Regions from separate parts of the Homo sapiens genome. Here all the other regions are linked to region 3. Evidence: fine-mapped expression QTL. A gene starts in region 3. Each other region holds a variant in brackets. All regions are shown on one strand. Distances are from middle to middle.

Evidence for each region. PIP is the estimated chance that this variant, and not a neighbour inherited with it, causes the effect.
Region 1: its variant is the best candidate, but not a certain one, in a credible set for the expression of CNTNAP4 in hippocampus (GTEx, PIP 0.50).
Region 2: its variant is the best candidate, but not a certain one, in a credible set for the expression of CNTNAP4 in cerebral cortex (GTEx, PIP 0.77).
Region 4: its variant is the best candidate, but not a certain one, in a credible set for the expression of CNTNAP4 in spinal cord (GTEx, PIP 0.90).

Annotation. Positions count from the first base shown.
Region 1 is chr16:75,970,134-75,975,290 of GRCh38, reverse strand. No RefSeq gene overlaps it. Among named protein-coding and RNA genes, the nearest start is that of CPHXL, 250 kb to the right of the region's middle. The variant A/T (reference allele first, on the strand shown) is at 3,009.
Region 2 is chr16:76,558,890-76,564,046 of GRCh38, reverse strand. CNTNAP4 (contactin associated protein family member 4) reads right to left here. Exons shown (of 24, transcript NM_033401.5): 24 at 3,290-5,157. Among named protein-coding and RNA genes, the nearest start is that of LINC02125, 74 kb to the left of the region's middle. The variant G/A (reference allele first, on the strand shown) is at 2,210.
Region 3 is chr16:76,274,747-76,279,903 of GRCh38, reverse strand. It overlaps CNTNAP4 (contactin associated protein family member 4), which reads right to left and starts at 2,503. Exons shown (of 24, transcript NM_033401.5): 1 at 2,157-2,503. The coding sequence starts at 2,241.
Region 4 is chr16:75,982,777-75,987,933 of GRCh38, reverse strand. No RefSeq gene overlaps it. Among named protein-coding and RNA genes, the nearest start is that of CPHXL, 260 kb to the right of the region's middle. The variant G/A (reference allele first, on the strand shown) is at 2,242.

The DNA.
Region 1 (5,157 bases), 300 kb after region 3:
TTTGAGACGGAATCTGGCTCTGTTACCCAGGCTGGAGTGCAGTGGCGCGATCTCGGCTCACTGCAAGCTCCGCCTCCTGGGTTCACGCCATTCTCCTGCCTCAGCCTCCTCAGCAGCTGGGACTACAGGGGCCCGCCACCACGCTTGGCTAATTTTTTTGTATTTTTAGTACAGATTGGGTTTCACCGTGTTAGCCAGGATGGTCTCCATCTCCTGACCTCGTGATCCGCCCACCTCGGCCTCCCAAAGTGCTGGGATTACAGGCGTGAGCCACCGCGCCCAGCCATACATAACTTCTTTTTCAAGTTAAACATCAGTAAATAAAGATATAGAGTTATAATTATGTGAGTATGTTTGATCATAATTTGACTTACAACAGTCAACGCTAAAATATCTAAAAATATATTCCTCAAGCCTTAAAAATGTTTATGAATGAGCGAACAAAACAAAGGCAACAAAAACCATATAGCATAAGATATCAAAGAAAGCACCAAAACAGAAATTACACTGAGCATTATTAAAATTAAAATTAAAAGCATTATAAAATTATAAAAAATTATAAAAAGCATTATAAAAATTAAAAGCAGAAGAAGCAATATATCATAGTAAGTGGAAATGAGATAAATTTCCTATTAAGCCTCTGACTGACCAATAGATAACACAAAGTGTTACCACACCCATCCAGGCGACTTAAGACTAAGCCCTCAATTGATGGAAACACCTTAAAGTTGTATCAAGAGCCCCAACAGAGAAATAGGCCCCTTTTTTGCAATAGTAAATTGTATTATACTAGAAAAATTGGTAATTCTCTGTAATGGAAATCTCGAGACAGCAAATACAAGGCCGTCTCAAAAGAAAAAAACCCAGAAGCCAATCAGCTGCTTGAAAAAATCATGTAGCGTAACAATACCTTGCAGTTTGCAATGACATTACCGAAGTTCTAGCTCATAAGAAAGCTAGAAAACTAGAAAATAGACAATAAAAAACAAGTTAGAAACAAAAGTTACTCTTCTAAAAAGAGTAGGAAGCAATGTGACTCAAACTATTCAGTTCAACTAGCTGTATGACTTGGAAAAAAATTACCAACCTTCCAATCTTCAATCATTTCATTGTAAGTATAATAAAAAGTTACTGCTCTCTCAACTTTTAGCTCTTTAAAATGTTACATCCTGTAAGCCAGTTTGCATTCGATATGCACACACACAAATACAGAAACACACATGCACAGTGGGATCAAAGTAGGTGAGTGATGTCTCTTGCTTACTTTTTTCCCTAAAGATTGAAAGGTTCTTTAAAACTTTATCCACACATAGATATCCGGGAAATGGGACTAATAAGGCAGAACTCACAGAGCAGATTTGCAGATTAAATAGGATTACAATATAAAACACTAAGCATCATACTTTGCACAGTTAGTGGTCACTGTTATCACCATTGGTTCCCAATGCCGTGGTCAGCCATGTGAATTACTGAGGGTAAGTTTTGAGCTGCGCAAAGGAACACTAGCATGTTGTCATTTGTACATTTGACTTATGCAAATCCAAGTGTAGGTGCTTGAGGAAAAGAACAGAGAGCGAGTACTGACTATCGACTTTCCACTCCTATCAATGAACACATGCCACAGTGGAAGTACAACCCTAGGAACAGAATGTGCTGTTTTTATCAGTCAACCCTTCTGTCTCCAGTATTGTGAATATCTCAGCGCACAAGTATGATTCTGGGGTTAAATGTGTACATTTTCATATAAGATAAAGCCAAAACGCAAGGCAAAAGTTCATCTGATAGTCAAGTGAAGACACAGTGATTGGATCAACGCTGTAGAAAAAGCTGTTTGGCTTTGTTGGTCTTACTGAGGTTATTCATGTCCATAGTATGTATCTTATGAGTGATTTGTGGGAATATTCAAGAGGAATATTTTACTATATTCCAGTTCCACCTTACAGGCAGACTTTAGAAACCTCAATTGTATAGGATGTACATTCACTTTATAAATGTGAGACGAAGAAAGGGAAAAGACAAGAATTATTTTTAATGGCCCCAATAAATGTTGGGTTTGCAACAAAACTCAAATCCAGCCCAGAAGCATAAACAGCAAGATGAATTGATCAGAGTGTGCCAGATGAAAGCTTAGCTAGTTAATTATTATATCATCTTAAGTGTAAAGACCAAAGATGTTGCAGTCATCAAAAGCAAACTTGATCACTAACCAGAGAGTGGTTCACGGTAGAGGGAAATGAGAAGAGGATCTGGTCTTGGGAAATGCCAACGACATCAACCCATGGACTGGAGACATGGCTAAAGATTCAAGTATCATGGGATTAAAATGCAGGGATGGTCATTTTATAGGCATATGCCTCTTTGATGTGTGTGTGTGTGTGTGTGTGTGTATGTATAAGAAAGAGAGACACAGACAAAGAACAAGATGGGGTGTTAGGGGCAGTAGGAAACTTGAGGAGAATACTAGAAACTGCCAGCAGATGATACAGCATTGAACATTTAGGGTTCTGCCACCTGAGAGGTGACAATCTAAGCTATGTGATTCTCAGGTACAGGAAAGGAACCTTAAATGCTTATTTGGCTGGGCTCTTACTGGTCTCAATTAGGGGGGCCACTGGTAACTACTAGACAGGATTCATCAGGAAGGACCAATCTGAGGAAATTGAAAAGTAGGAAATTAAACTAACGCAATCCTCCTCTCCCTAGTTATTCATTTAAAAGTTTGCCTCACTCTCAGTCACATGCATGGTGTCCAGGGCAATTTTCTACCCAGCTGGCCATGAGCAGGAGTGACTGTGCACCCTGAATGTCAGAGATACTTCTTCACAAGAATCTGTGAAGACTGCCAGCCCTGTGCTTTCTTTTTAAATCCCTCTTCCCAGAATATCCCCTGCCTGACAGTTGCTGGCTGATGGTGGGTACAGTGGGGAGAGTGTGGATGTGAGGCTCTGTGAGCGACACTCTTTACAGGCTCTCACTGTGAGAGGAAGGAACTGTGCATGGAGGCAGAG[A/T]TTTCCACTAAATGTCCATTGGTCCTACTTCAATAAAGGCTTCAGACTTAAAGCCAAGAGAGAAACAGTTATAAAATCAGCTCGATGAAACCAGCTACATCTCCATGAAAAGGGCTAACTTTCTGTACTGTGGATAGGACCTTTGAATATCTTCAGATTTTAAAAATACACAGGTAGCAAACACTGCTGGTAGCTCTCATTCTCCATTAAAGGGAGAGCAATTACGTCAAAATGATAATGCAATGTGTATCCTCAACTCATATTATCTATTTGCTGTCCTTTGCGTGCAAAAAGATATGATAGAAAATAGTAAGAGAGAGAATTGCTAAGCAGCTGGTTAATCATGGCCTGTGCAATTATTATATTTTCATTCTGGCTCCGAAAAAGGAAACACTTAAAATGAATGAAATATGCATTGGTGCCGCTAGCAATGAAATTAAGCCACCTTATTAACTGTGCAATTTTTACAAAGGTTCCGAGAAATACTCATTAGGCCTTTTGTGTGAATTGAACTTCATCTCCAGCCCCATCTTAATTCCCAGAATATAAAGTAACACTCACTTAAACATCTCGGTTTTACTAAGAGATGACAAATAAAATACTTGGAGATTTTGGAAATAGAATACACATTAAGAAAAAAACAAGGTCCTTATTAGCTGTTTCATCTTTTATTTAGTTTATTCCTTATCGTGATCCTCTTATTGTTACTATTATCACTATTACTATCACTACCTTCAAATCATTATGCTAGGTTATTGCACAATATATCATTAATTCTTTAAGAAAAGCAGGCAAGACAGGAATTACCATTGTCATTTACTAAATAAGAAAAGAGGTTTCAGAGCACAATTAACTTTCTGAAGCTCCCATTACTAATAAGTCTGAACAATTCCAAAGCCCACATTCATCCCATCACTCATATTTCCATATACAAACTTGTCAAGAATCATTGGGAAAATGCATTTATATTTTACTATTATATGGGTCAATCTAATATTACTAATGTAACTTGAGACATTTTCATTAAATGTTCACTATCTTGCCATAAACGTTTTATAAATATTAATCTCAAATTATTAAAGTCTCTAAATACTTAATATTAAAGCCTCACACATTATTATTGCTCCTTCATCTTAAGGAAATCATCCAAAGAAATAGTCATAAAATGAGAATGTTATTGGTACTTTTTTATCACCAGGTTTTTAATCACTTTGAAATGATATTTGGCATTTTCAACTTGGAAAATGGAGCTATATGTTCAATTGCAGAGATTATGACTAAGAGGATTAACAGTAAATTCACAGCAAAGGAAGCAGCTACCTAGAAATAGTGTTTGATCTCAGGAATTTTCCACCTCCCTGCCACATCCTACAACATACCAGGCAAAAATAGAAGGAAAAATAATACAGGTATAAAACAGCTACCTGTACAAATTAAATTAAAAACAAAACTTCTATCTGAATAATAAGTATAATTATCTATCTTTACATTATATATATATATAAAATACTTGGTGGTTTAGAAGATTTTTATGAAGATTTATATATTATATATTATATATATAATATAAACCATCTTTGGTGCTTTAGAAGATTTTTATGAAGATTAATATATATAATACATATAATTTTTATATATTATATTTATAGATTTATAGATACAGATTTATATATAATATTTATATAGAGATTTATATATCTATAAAATATATATTATATATAAATATAGATTTATATATAATATTTATATATATAGATTTATATATATATTTATATATAATATTTATATATAGATTTATATATAATATTTATATATAGATTTATATATAGATTTATATATAATATTTATATATATAGATTTATATATATTATATTATATATATATAAATCTTCATAAAAACCTTCTAAACCACCAGACATCTTCTGTACCTATTAAAAAAAGAGTCTGCAAATATAACAATAGATCAAATCAAGGCTAATTAATCTCTGTACCACTAAATTGGTTGAACTCCAGTCAACTACGAGTTGACAACATTTCCATTTTGGACATCTCTACCTGCTCAAATATCCCCTTTGCTTTAAAGTCTCAAACCAACTTAATTCAATAAAGATACTTAAAAAAACTCATACTAATCATAAAAAATATTGAG
Region 2 (5,157 bases), 280 kb before region 3:
AAAGTTATATTGGAACAGAGCAATGGTCAAAATAATGCTATGTAGACTTCACTGGAAGTCACCAGTGGGAACATCACATTGAAAAACTCAGGGAACTATAGCAGTGCCAGGTCACCTGGCGTAGAGAAACACAACTTTCTAAAAAGGTTCCAGGCTTGCTATTGGGCCCTGCTAGAGACGAAATGCCTTACATCACATTGGCACAGCAAATATGGGCAGAAATGCCCATAATGAGCTGGGTTCTGTCAGGTCCACCAAGTCATAAAGTTACCTGGGCCCAGCAGGAAGCCATCATCAACTGGAAATGATGCATCTGGAGCCAAGCATGAGCAGGTGCCAGCAAGCTGCATAAGCCAGTAGCCCAGACCCCTGTGATCCACCACTGTCCCAACAGTACCTTTCCCTCAGCTTACACCTAGGGCTGCATGAAGGGTCTCTTACCATCAACTGCTGGAGAAGGGAAATATCTTATCTTGGCATGGATGGGTTGACTTGGAATATGGGTGCAAGGTGAACATGGAAAATGCCACCACTACAGTGCCAATTAGGGTGGCATCACAAGATGGCAATGAGGAAAAGCCCTCCCAATGGCAGAACATTTGCATGGCACCCATGCTCATTCACTCTGCATGAAACGAATAGACTGAGGTTATAATTTATATATACATATGAAATTATATTATATGCTATATGGACTTATGGGCAGTAGGTTGGTCAGTTTGTCAGAGACCTAGAAAGAGACTGGAAGATTGGAAACAAGGAGGTCTGAAGTAGAAGCATGTAAATGGACCTATGGGAGTGGTCATAAAGCATAAAATTATTTGCCCACCATGGAAAGAATCATGGAAGAATCACTAAACAACAATTAGTAGATAGAATGACCTATGCATGGTTGGCATTAAACCAACTTCAATCACTGGCCACCAAAGTGCTGGGGCAATGAGCATATGAACAGAGTAGCCATGCAGGCAGGGGTAGGAGCTACTCATAGACAAGCAGTGAGCATTCCCGCTCATCAGGACTGATCTAGCTACTACCACTCCTGAATGTCCTAATGATCAACAGAGACCAGTGTTCATCCCCCAGAATAATTTCTCTCTACCAGCAGATAAATTCTGTGGCAAGCTGAGTACATCAGATCCCTCTACTCTGAAAGGGACAGAGATTCATTGTAGTAAGAATTATGACTTCCTTCAGGTTTGGGTTGTCTTTACTGCCTGCAAGCCATCAGCCACCACCACCTGTTGAGGGTCTACAGAGCCCCTCTGGTGGTGTGGAATGTGACAGGACCAGCATATCTCATGGCAATGTGCCCACTCCCACTTATCCTTTGCTGTAATGTGGATCTTTCACCGATTCAAGATTTTCTGAGAGGGTATGTGAGAAGTAACTGTCTGTAACCAACAATAAGTGAGGGAGGTGAAATTACACTCTGAGGAAGGGAGAAATGTGCTTTGCATGTTGATACTTCTTTGATCAATTTTAATGGTAATTGCAAAAGTACAGCAGATATACCCTGAGAAGGTCATAGGAGACAAGGGTTCAAACTCCTTGTAGTGTTGTCAGCTGGTGTGGATGGTAGAGGAGGAAAAAGATGAGTACAAGCTACAACTGAGAGACTACCTGCAGTGGTAGGGTCTGTGGTTTATTCCATACTACTCCCTCCTGTCCAAGATATGAAGCTCACTAGAATTCTGAAGGAGCTACTCCCAGAACTCATATGAAGCAGGTGGATCTGGTTAGCACAAGGGGGAACCTCAGAGATGCTGTACTGTGCCACTGAGACTCCTATTTCAGGACTCAGCAATTTATTCTTCTCGGCTGCTGGTGATGTTTGTCCTCCCTCTTCAGGAACCACCTAAGCTGAAAAGAGCCATTTGTCCAAGTTCATGCCCACCTCATCAAGAAGTTAACATCCAATGCCTGGTCAATGCAGAAGTATAAATTCCCATTTCATCCACCCTAACTCTGTATGTCACTAAAGGACCATGTCAGCAGGGTCGGCTGATCCCTTCTTGTGACCATACCACAGCTTTACTTCTCCATCTGCCCCACCCCACATCATTCTGTCTTCAACAGGCGTTGATCTCTACAGTAGCCCCTAACAGATTTCTTCCAGCATAATCTCTGTCTCAAAGTTTGCTTCCCAGGGAACCTAACCTGTAGCTGCTGGTTATTTATAAACACAGAGACAGTGAAAGACACAGTT[G/A]AAAGAGTTTTAAGTGTTGGGAAGGGGATCTGGCAATGGAAAGATATTTTTTGTAAGCTTTCTTGAGCTATTTGATTTTTTAAGTATGTGCATGTATTTTTAATAAATAAAGACAATGTTAAAATAGAAAAACAGATTTTTTAAAGATTGTACTGGAAAAGTTATTATACTTGTAGTCAGATTTATTTTCCATCCCCTTTTATTTTTATTTGCAAATCTTCAAAGCCAAGCTCCAGCTTTCTTAATCACATTGTAAGTACACTATGTTGTTCCCTTATCTTAATTTCTTATTATTTGTTGCACACACAAATGTGCTCACCCACCCACATCCCCAACACAAAGACATTCAGCTTCTGAACTTTTTCCTCCACGTTACCACTCTCTCCCATCCAGACTTTGGAAAAGCGAAAGACAACCAGAATATATTGAAGGTATCTAGTCGATTTGTCATTTAGTTGATACATGAGTTTGAAAATCAAACAATTCGCTTGAACATGCATTGATTTAGAATGTGTCTAATTTATCCTTCTATCAGGAGGAAAATATTTGATGATTCCCTCAGTGACATCTAATTCCTATTGTGGATTTCACAAAGCCTACATAAAAGTGCTCCAGTGATAATAATTGTCTCTCCTGCAGTCAAGGGTCATAAACCTACCAAATATTTTTAAAAGAAAGGCAAACCTATCAACAGCAATGACCTATCAAATAAAGGTTGATGTTCATTTAGAACAGATAATGGATAAGCTATAGAACTATAGATCATTGTGGACAAAGAAAGTATCAAGATCTTTCAGATTTTTCTACACCACTAAATAACTGTCAAAATTCCAGGTCTTGGAAGATCAATATCATGTGGAGTAAAAAAGGACATTGTAGTCACATCTTCAACACTTACACAATGTTACATGTCCCCTTGGGAATGTCAATTGATATATCCGCATCCTGGACTTTTCATCTGTAAAACTGTTCACACTAAATCATGTCAGTGCTGTCCAATTCTATGAGTGACTCTGTTGTTCTGAAGGACAAAAACATCTACTGAAAGATAATTTTGAAATGATTGACTTCTGTTTTGCATTTTAGTTCAAAAATGCATTTTATTAATGATAAAATAAGAGATTACAAATCAGGAAATTAAAGTCATGGCATAGGATGTGTCAATGCATTTCCATGCCATAATGTTGAGTCTCTAGCAGTGCAGACCACAGAGGACTGTGAGGCTTCACCAATAAACCTCCCTAGAGTTCAGCTACCAATGAGGTTAATACCGCTACTAAATAACATGAACATCTGCAAAAGATTCAGAGATATAATGATGTTTGCACTCAGCTTTGCATCGAATAAATAATGCCATTTCTATGTTAAATCCTTCCCTTGTCACCATAGATCTTCCAATCAAACAAAGAGTATACCATCTACCAACATAGGTCCTTAGTCCTTCGTAAACTACTATGTTAATTCAGGTTCTTAAGATTTAGTCAGGCATTTGCAGAAACATCAATATGGATATAGTGCTATGAGAAAAGAGAGGCAGGTTTTATAAGAAGAGTTAACAAGGAAAATATAGAAAATAAGATGATAGTAATGCTAAATTTACATATTTCCCGATTCTTCTGGTGTAGACAAACTAAGAAATCCAATAGTTACTTGGGAGGCACTTGAAGGTGTGAGTATGTATAATAGAGTGCCTTTATTGTATGATTGGCTTGCAGAATTCAAAGATAGTTCCTTGTATGCATGGTCTCAAGATTAATTATTGTAACAGTTCCATAAGGTTATTGATCATTCTTTGATCTCCTAGTGTATAATACACCCTAATCAGAATGTACCATTCAGCAAGTTGGATTGATTCTTGGTAATTTTTGAGAAATTCACCCCATCGTTTCAGACGAGAAGTGTCTGGAATGACAAATTCACAGTAGATCATTTAATATGCTATCTCCCCTTAGAGTGTGCATTGTTTAATTATTGATTGTGTAGATCACTGATGGTTGCAGCTCATATTTCAAAAAGTATGTACTGGAAGTCTATGCACAGCAAAATGTACACCTAAAGGGGTATATGTTTCAGAATGGGAAATGGGGCTCTATACTTCAATTTGTCTCTTTTTTGGTAATATATAAGATGATTCGTGAAGTATAATCATTGAAGATCAAGGCGAAGTTTGTGATAAACTTCAGAAAAACAGAAATGTAAACCAATAAAGGACTGATCTAGGTTTGGGCAAAATAGTCTCATAAGTATATTTCATTTGAGGTATTACAGTTGTAAATTAAATAATAATTTTTTGCTGTGTTAAGAATTTTTTTTAATATATCAACAGTTTAGTTGAAAACATTTTACATTCTTTGGGAAACTGGCATTACTCAGGGTCTTAAGTACTGTCACCATCAAACAATGGTAGCAAATTAATTGGAAAACTTTTTTTAAAAGGAAAGACATTACATACTAACAACCACTGCACTTTCTGAGTCTTGTTAAATACAACTTGTATGTTCAGAGTTGAAGTCTGAGACTCAAAACCAAATGTATTCAACATTATTAAGAAGAGACAAATAGAATAATGAGCAATACAAACAAAGCAAAGACAGCAAAACATTTTTCAAGACTATTGATGTATTGTATTGAATATAATACAGAGAAAGGCAAAGGGGCTTTATTATGCTTGTGGCCACTGAAGATGCAAACACCGGCCACACAGGATCTGAGAAGCATTTCCAGGTCTATGAATAACACCACGAGGAGACAAAAGCAAACACAGCAAATGTTCTCAAATAAAGCAAGGACATTATAGTCCAAATTTAATTTTTACCTCTAACAAAACTTATGTATTACATGGTTAAGAGACCAAGGCTACAGTTTTCACATGTAAAAACTGTAGCCATTAAGCAGGTTAAACTTGTTTTAGATCATACCAGAACAGTTGAAAATTAACAGCAATATCT
Region 3 (5,157 bases):
CCATGGCTTGGTACAAGTAGACCTTACTTCTTCCAAAAAGAAAATACTTCTTAAATATTGAAAAATGAAATAGAAATTGAGAAATGAAATATTTTCTTTTACACATACTGCTGCAAATCATATTGTCAAAATATTCACAATAAATTACTGAGTGCAACTTTAATTATATAAGGTCATTTCATTTTATTTTTGACACTTGAAGAACAGTCAACTCCACATGCATGGTAAGCAAGAACTCCAACTTTAAATGTTTTTTATAATGAAAAATCGTATAGGTTTTGCAAGTTCATCAGATGTTTAAAAGAGCATTAGACTACTTCCTTAACAAACCAAGGCTGAAAGAATATAGAACCAGCACTGAAATTTTAAGTGTCAGTGAGGGATCCAACCAGAGCCAAGCAGACATAAATATTACACTCTCCTCAGATCTCTTTCAGCACCTTTTCTTTTCTAAGAAGATATATGGCAAAAGAAAGCTATTTAATGTTGATGTACACCCTACACTTTTTATTGAGCTTCAAGAAAACAAGCAAACATAAACAACTAGCAGCCCAAATAATTAGATTAATGTATTTTAAACCCAACTACAGGCAGTCTAGTGGAAAGACTGAATGGAGTACAGGCCAGATTTAAGCTCTGCTTTTCTTGAGGGAAGGATGCTTGGGGTGATGTGCTTTACATTGTAAGAGTGACCTCTAGTGCTTTTCTTTTTGGTTGAACTTTAGTGGTTGGAAGATGAATTACTTATGCCTTTTCTACAGAACTTCCATTTGTGTGTGGGTGTTGTTGTTATTGTTTGCTTGTATGATGCAATGTTTTTCTAATGCTACCATTATAAGATTCCAAGGTTTTGACTAGGTGAAATTATACATTTTATTGACTTATGAGATTATCACAACACTCAAACTAAAGTTGAATCTGATGTGCAGCACCTGAAGTGAGGTTCCTTCTTTCAGAGTGATGGATACCCTGTGACATTAAATGAGCCCATTCTGAACTGAAACACGAAATCACGGGAGCCAGGTACTGTGAGGGGACATTTGACTTGTGCCCATGAGTTTGTCATGTTTTTCACATATCAGAACTCTTAACATAGTCAAGTGATATGCCATAGCAAATGTCTGATTACTGCCTCTGTTCCCCAAATCTAAGCCTGATGATACAGCAGCAACATAAATTCCTGGACAGGCCTCATAGCCAGTTCTTGGAAAGCAAATGAGCTTTTCCTTTAAAATCCAAGAAAAAATAAAAAGTTGTATTTGCCAAGCTTGTTTGTCATTAATCAGGAGGGGAAAATTCTCCCATTTAGAGAATTTAAGCCAAAGATAACTTTTAAAACTTTTTCTATCTCTAATAAAGAGTGGATGAAGGGAGTCTGCCAAATTATTATGGATGATATCTAAATTATAAATAAGATTTCAATCTTCCCTAAATAGGTTCTATTTCATCAGAACATTCAATTACAAATTTATGCAGTTAAGCATTCAACCACAAAGGAATCCTACTTTTGAAAGACCACCTGACTGGTTTTCCTTTAAGCGAAATGTAGGAAGAGGCTCCTCTTTCCGGAGAGCGCTAAGTCTCATTCTCTTAGCAGCGAGGGCACAGCTCTTAATACTGAGACTCGCCTCAGCCAGTGCTGGTGCTCCTGAAGCCTGCAGTACATTTCAGTTATTAGCCTGCATTATTTTAAAGATGCAGGCAGCTACTGGTCTGCCCAATTGCAAACTTCAGAAATCTAAGCCAATGCAGCATAATGTAAAGTCTGCCAGTTGTTTTCCTCTTAGACATAATTCCAATAAAATTCAGTAGTTCTTTAAAAAAGAAGAAATGAAGATATTCACAGGCTATTCCCCCGATAAGATGCTAATTTCATGTTTTACTAGAACTTGGGCATTCTCAATGAATACTCAAAGACCAGAGGGTAAGATTCTGCGAGTAGACAAAAAGAGAAATGACACTTTGCCTATTTTGACCAGACCAAGAGGAGAGACAAGTGTTAACCGGTCACATTGGCAAGATTTTTAAGTGATGCTTGGTTTACAGCAATACGCTTTGCAGCAATCCCAGCTGCAAATAATCATCATCAAACCAACAGAATCAAAGTTTTGCAGAGAGCCCCCCAGCAAGTTTTAAATCATTTGCTGTATACTTACAGGAATTCCCAGCTTCGACTCTGTTCCAATTTTGAGTAGATAACAGAAGTAGCGTCTTGAGGACAGCTCCCGTGACAGATCCCATGTTCACATTTATTGGGCTCCCCCAAAAGATCTTGAGAGGCTCTCAGAGCGCTCCAGTCCTCTTCTCAGTAGCTCTGCCAGCTCTGTCTGGGTCTTCAGCCCCTCTAGGTCTCTGTCTCTCCCCCTCCCTTCCTCCTCACCTCCCTCCGTCTTTTCTTCTTCCCTCCTCCCTCTCTTCTCTCTCCCTCTCTCTCTCCCCGTCTCTGTCTCTCTCTTTTCTCTCTCTCTCTCACACACACCTCCCTGACTCCTCACTGAAAAGCACTCAGCATCTTTCCTAACAAGCATCCACACCGCCGAGGCCACGCCCACTCCTCGCAGCAGCGGTCCCACAAATTGGCAGCAGCATCCTTCCTTCCAAACACACAACAGCGCTCGAGCTCCGCTGCACCCAGAGGCGCGGCCTCCCGTTCGTGGGCCTCCTTGGGGCTCCCTCCCTTCTCTTCTATTTTCCAATAATCCTTAACCCTTTTCTCCCAGCTGGAGGTGTGAGTGGGGGAAGGGACAAGGCGGTGGAGCCTTCTGATTTTCTGGAGGTCTTGCATTTGCAAGAGCCAGAAAACACACTGAGCCATTCCTGATTATCCGGGAGTGCATCCAGGTAAAATTGCATTATGTTTCAAAACAAAAGCATAAAATAAGACAGAAATAACTAAGCAGCATTGGGAAATTGTAGCTAAAACCGTCCTCAGGGAAAATACTTGCTGTTGTTTTTCTCTGTTTCTATAAAACTGTACTCTTCAGCGAGGGTGCCAGGATTTTATTATGGAAATTCCCCACATGGGAACAGACATTCCTGCTTAGCAGATATTTAAAATCATCTGGTAGTAGTCTGCAAGAAATTAACATTTCTTATTTTAATGCTTCAGGTGTATAAATCCACAAATGAAATGCTTTGGCTAGATTTATGTTGATGAATGCATCATGCTGTGAATATGAAGTACCATTCTATAATCAAAATTTTTAATAACATTTCCAAAAAGGCCCAAAGTAGGAAATGAGGGAATACTGAAGAAAGGGACCTCCACCACCACCACATACACACATGCATACACATTCACACAAACACTGAACAATGTGACGATGTAATTCAGGTGACTTAAAGGAGAGAGGAGTAAAGTTGAATTTGGAAGATCAATGATTAAAGAAAAATTACTCTTTGAATGGCTGGTCCATGGATACAACTGTTTCTTGAATGGAATTTTAAAATGTCTAAATAATGGAGTTACTATCACATAACAAGAAGCATGTCACATGGTTCATAGCAGATAAATAATCTATTTAAAATAAATGTCAAGATGTTTTACTGATAATGTGCTAGATTTTATACAAATGGAAATCCTGGAGTTCTTAAGTGCCTCTTGGTAATCACAAATTGGAAGAAACATAAGCCTTTAACACCACTTTCTTATGGAATAATGAGAGTGGGTTTGTCAAAGATCAGATAGGTTTGTCAAAGAGTGAGAAAATGACAGAAATACCCGTAAGAACTAAACATGCTTGTTTAGCTCATGCCTGCAAACAAAGCAGAATGCATCTTTTTTCTTTTCCTGTTTTACAAGAGAAAACAAGAACAGAGAATTTAAATGATTCGAAGAGGTCATAGAGTTAGTAATAAATGCTGAGGACTGGATTTGGCTTTTCTGACTCCAGTTTTACTGCTCTCACCCTAGGACTTATTGCCCCTAAATCAGAGTATACCTCCTTCCTGACCCTTGTCAGTGGCAGCAAAAACCTTAGGCCCTAGGAAAACACAGCAAACACTTTGGGAGGCCAAGGTGGGCAAATCACTTGAGGTCAGGAGTTCGAGACCAGCCTGGCCAACATGGTGAGATCCCATCTCTACTAAAAATAAAAAAAATAGCAGGGTGTGGTCGCAGGCAACTGTAATCCCAACTACTTGGGAGGCTGAGGCAGGAATTCGCTTGAACCCGGGAGGCAGAGGTTGCAGTGAACCAAGATTACACCACTGCACTCCAGCCTGGCCAATAGAGCGAGACTCTGTCTCAAAAAAAAAAAAAAAAAAAAAAAGGATAAATACAATAAAATAAAGAAAGGTCATGGGTTGAGTGTTTATTCTGTGTTCCTAGACTTGCATTCCTGATTTTATTTTTTCAATCATATGCTAAGTAAAAGCAGATATAAATTAACAGTTTATGTTAACTAATTATTGAAGGAGATTAAATTTTACTGAACACATACTATATGCCATTTGTTATCTAATTGAATAATTATATCAGTCCTTTGAAGAAAATATCATGTCTGTGGGACGGTTGTGGGCTCTCCAGAAGAAAAAAGTTGTCTCGTTGTTACAATATTGTATTTAATTGTTCTCTTAAAACAAATTAGAGAATGCATCTTAAATGGATAAGTACACATAGCAAAAATGAAAAATAAACATTTTATAACAATAATAACTTCTTTGGGACAATGTATAAATTATTATAGTGACCAATACTGGCGGATTTTTCCATATCAATGGGCTACAGTAATAGAAGGAATTGGGGGCTGGCCCTCAATAGAAGACCTGAGCATTTCAAGTCACTGCAAAACCTGTCTCTGCCTGATGGCTGCAGAGGGGTAGAGAGTTGCCTAGACAAATGAAACAGTGAGTGCTTGAGATATGGTAAACAGAGAGGCCTCAGCCGGGCGCGGTGGCCCACGCCTGTTATCCCAGCCCTTTTGGAGGCCGAAGCGGGCAGATCACGAGGTCAGGAGATCGAGACCATCCTGGCTAACATGGTGAAACCCCGTCTCTACTAAAAATACAAAAAATTAGCCAGGCATGGCGGCAGGCGCCTGTAGTCCCAGCTACGTGGGAGGCTGAGGCAGGAGAATGGCATGAACCCAGGAGGCGGAGCTTGCAGTGAGCTGAGATCGAGCCACTGCACTCCAGCCTGGGCGACAGAACAAGACT
Region 4 (5,157 bases), 290 kb after region 3:
TCTCCCATGACACAAGTTCACTTATGTTCAAACCTTCACATGTGCCTCTGAACCAAAAATAAAACTTTTTAAAAATATATATTCTATTAAACCTTCTTGGTAATAAAGTTGGTTCTAGCCACACAGAATAATGGATTCTAGCCACACAGAATAAATAAATACATACATAAGCTCCTCTTGTCTGACTTCTGCCTCTTCATGACTTCCCACAGCACTAGGAGTATAATCCTATAAGACCTTATATCTTCTGGCCCTGCCGTCCTTGTCAATACCATCTTGTACAACTTATTTCCTCGCTGACTGGGCCACAGACTCATTTTTGCTCTCTTATAAAACACTCTAACTTAGGTTACAGTTTGTCCACAAGGACTTCAATGTAGAGGTACAGAATCCTTCTCAGGCCATATTTAGTTTGCTTTAATGTCAGTTTCAGGTGTTCTGTTATTAGCAACAGAAACTAAACTAAGATGATGGGATGATACAATATGTATTCTTTTGTGACAGGCTTCTTTCATTTAGTAAAATGTTTTCAAGCTTTATCCAGGTTGTAGCATGCATCAGTCCTTCATTCTTTGTGATGCTGCTTAATATTTTATCATCTGGATATACCACGTTTAGTTTATCCAACATTTGATGGATGGATTTTTTCCATTTTTTGGTTATAGGGTGCAAGTTTATGTGTGGACATATATTTTCATTTCTTTCAAGTAGATACCTAGAAGTGGAATTGCTCTGTAAAATACTATTTTGAGGAACTGCCAAATGGGCTGCACCATTCCACATTCCCATCGGCAATGTATGAGGGTTCCAATTTCTCCACATTCTCTCCAACACTTCTTATTGCCTGCCTTTTTGGCATAGCCATTCTGCAGATTGTCATTGTGGTTTCGATCTGCATTTCTCTAATGATTAATAATGTTGAGCATTTTTTCATATATTTTGTTAATTTGTATATATCTTCTTTGCAGAAATATCTGTTTAAATCCATTGTCCATTTTGTAATTGGGTTGTCTTTTTATATTTTATATTAAAAGCTATTTAGGCCAGGTACGGTGGCGCATGCCTGTAATCCCAGCACTTTGGGAGGCTGAGGCAGGCAGATCACCTGACATCAAGAGTTCCAAAGCAGCCTGGCCAAGATAGTGAAAACCCGTCTCTACTAAAAATACAAAAATTAGCTGGACATGGTGGCGGGCACCTGTAATCCCAGCTACTTGAGAGGCTGAGGCAGGAAAATTGCTTGAATCCAGGAGACGGAGGTTGTGGTGAGCTAAGATCATGCCACTGCACTCCAGCCTGGGTGACAGAGCAACACTCTGTCTCAAAATAAAAATAATTTTAAAAACTATTTATATATTCCAGATATGATTCTCTTCCTAGATACATGATTTACAAATATTTTCTCCCATTCTTTGGGTCATCTTTCTTGATAGTGTCCTTTGAAGCACTAAATTTTTAATTTTAATGAAGTTCAACTAATTAATTTTTTTGAGATGGAGTCTCACTCCATCACCCAGACTGGAGTGCAATGGCACAATCTCGGTTCACTGCAACCTCCGCCTCCTGGGTTCAAGTGATTCTCCTGCCTCAGCCTCCTGAGTAGCTGAGATTATAGTCGCATGCCACTACACCCAGCTAATTTTTGTATTTTTAGTAGAGACGGGGTTTCACCATGTTGGTCAGGCTGGTCTCGAACTCCTGACCCCATGATCCGCCTGCCTCTGCCTCCCAAAGTGCTGGGATTACAGACATGAGCCACCACGCCCGGCCTAATCTTCTCTTTTATTGCTTGTATTTTTGGTGTCATAGCTTAGAAATTATTGCCTAACCCAAGATCATGAAGATTTCTTCCTGTTTCGTTTTGTGGGTTTTGTTAACTCTGTATGAGAGCATGAGCTCTCATAGTTAGGTCTGGGTCCCATATTTATTTAGTTTTTGCATGTGGTGGTAGGGGTCCAAATTTATTCTTTTGCATCATGTGGATACCCAGTTGTTCCAGCATCATTTGTGAAACAACTATTCTTTTTCCCATTGAATTTGCTTGGCTTCTTAGTGAAAAATCAATTGACCATAAATGTATGCGTTTATTTCTGGGCTTTTGATTCTATTACATTAATTTATATGTTTATGCCTGCCAGCACCAAAGTGACTTGATTTCTGTAGCATTGTAGTAAATTTTGAAATAGGGAAGTATGAGTCCTCTAACTTTATTTTTCCTTTTCAAGATTGTTTTGGTTATCT[G/A]TACTGCCTTACATTTCCATATAAATGTGGGGATGAGATAGTTTCTACAAAAAAAAAAATCAGCTGGGATTCTGATAAACATTGTGATGAATCTGCAGATCAATTTGAAGTGTATTACCATCTCAATAACATTAAAACTTATGAATCATGAACATGGAATAACTTTTCATTTATTTGGGTTGCCTTTAATTTCTTTCACCAATATCTTACAGTTTTTAGTGTACAAGTCTTGCAATTCATGTTTAAAATGTATTCGTAAGTATTTATTTTTGATACTATTGGAAATGGAATTGTTTTCCTAATTTCTCATTCAGATAATCCATTGCTAGCACATAAAAACACAGTTTTTATTGATCTTGTATCCTGTAACCTTGACGAATTTGTATATTACTACTTTTTTTTTATTATACTTTAAGTTCTAGGGTACATGTGCACAATGCGCAGGTTTGTTACATATGTATACATGTGCCATGTTGGTGTGCTGCACCCATTAGCTCATCATTTACATGAGGTATATCTCCTAATGCTATCCTTCCCCCCTCCCCCCACCCCACAACAGGCCCCAGTGCGTGATGTGCCCCTTCATAGACTGGATTAAGAAAATGTGGCACATATACACCATGGAATACTATGCAGCCATAAAAAAGGATGAGTTCATGTCCTTTGTTGGGACATGGATGATATTAGATACTTTCTAATTTTTTCTTTCCTCCTCACAACAATGGTGCACAAAGGTTGTTATTATGCCATTTTTCCAGATACTGCCTGGAAAAAGAAAGAGGAATTCTGAGACTCAGAGATTAAGAAAAGTGCTTGATAAACAAAGTTAGAAAGTTGTAGAGGGTATAAATACCTCACGCAGGTTCTAATATGTCATGTGCCCTCCAATGAACCTTTTTCTTCTTAGGCTTAGCAAATTACTCTCAATATTACCTTATGGGCAAATAAGAATTTTGACAATTTCTGCACCTCAGGTATGTCACCTCTGTTTTTTTTACTGTATAAATCTGTAAACTATCACCAAATGGGTTTCTCTAAAATGACTTCATGCTTAGTGAAATATACTATATGATTCATTATTCAGAAGTAGAAACTCATGTCCTAAGAAAGGCTTTTTCTCTTTGTACAATTGTTTAAGTCTCTGAAGGGCTAAATATAAATGATCCTTGAAAATGAGGATAGAAGAAGGGATTTTTTTAAATAGTATTTTTAATCTGTTAGTGATTCAATTTGCTCCGTATTAAATGGTATTCTGCATATCGAGGTAACTTATAGAACTGTAGGCGTGTGATATGCTAAAAGCACTGAAGATTAATGAAAAGCCAAATGACAACACTGATAGGAAATAAATAAAACTCTTGTTTTCTCAGTTTTTATTTCAGGCAATGAATTGTCTTAGATTCCAAAGTCAAGATGGTACGGGACTCTATATAGTAGTGACATTAGACTTAAGTCCTATTTTATTTCACTGGATTTCAACAGCTCTTTAAAGCAGCCCCATAACAAACAAATCCCTTGGCGATATCCACTTCCACGCTGTATACTGACTGAAGTCCCTTGGAAAAGGAAATGTGCTGCATTACAATTTCAAAAATAGCAAGAGATTGAAAATTAATGCACCAAAGAGCATGTTGTTTTGGCCTTTTGTCTAAAGGGCAAATGCAGACAAATCAGTCTAGAGCTGTGTGCCATATATAGGGATTTGCTTCCTACACAAAACTCCAAAGAAAACAGTGCATTCAAATGGTAATGAAGAGAGGGCCTGGATGCAGATAATGGTGTATTAAACTTGGATGAGCTAATTGTGCATTTTCATGTGAATCAGCCTCCTGCTAAGACTCATTAGGAATGCACATTAAAGATATAGACAAGTGCACCGCCTTTTAATCAAGTGTCTTATTTCTAACAACACTATTAGTATTGTGAGCATTCTAGTAAGTGAAAATTTTGACTGAAATTTAATTGTGCAGCCCAGAAATTTGATTCTGTTTCAAAGCTGTAAGTATATCTTCATGTGAGGGTGAAATAAGAAGTGGAGGGAAATAGAGGGTGGACTAGAATAGGAATTGATCAATTACTTTTTTTTTTAATCTTAAAAACTAATTATGCTGGCCTATTGAGCTGGATTCTTACTTGGAATCCATACAAATCCTTACAAAATATCAGTCTACAGATGGTGCTGGGGAAATGACAGTTTAGACCACAGCAGCATTGCTCAGGAAAAGTGAGAAGCATTTCTGCAAAAGGGTGATGAAAAACAGGGGGAGCCCAGGGCTCCTGCCACTGCCTCAGATGGAGAGATGCTGCATACAAACAATCAGCACACAGAAGTAGAGGAAAATACTCATATGATTATGATTAGACACATAGCAGGAGAGCAAAACATGATTTAGCTTATTAAGCAATTGAAATCCAAGTGGATCAGCCTTCAAATTCTAAAATTTCTTGCAGAAGTATGTTCTTTTTCTTCTCCCAATTCATATTATACCACACTTGTAAGAAGCAAACACTCAAAATTTGTTTGCATTTGATTCTAATGTGTATTAGAGATTTTAAAATTTTTAACACAAACACAAAAGATTTATCTTTCTAAGCTATGTCTTAATATCGAAGTCACTTTTGTGGGCTTTTGGAATTATGGCACACTGATCACTTATCACTGCCCTACTCTCATTCCCAACACCGTCTCTGGAGTAGGTGATTGACAGAGACAAGAATGCTGTTGGTGGACCATTGAAGGTATACAGAAGCCATAAGTCCTGCTGGGATGTCAGGGAAGGAAATCAAGTCAGGGCTTTCTTCTCCAAGGGACCTGAAGTAAAAGATAAGGTTTGTCTCTCCTCGATCTTGGGGAGCTGCTCATGAAGAGTCCAAAGTGGGTGCAGTTTTGGTGTCTCTGGAGTATGGGCAGCACAT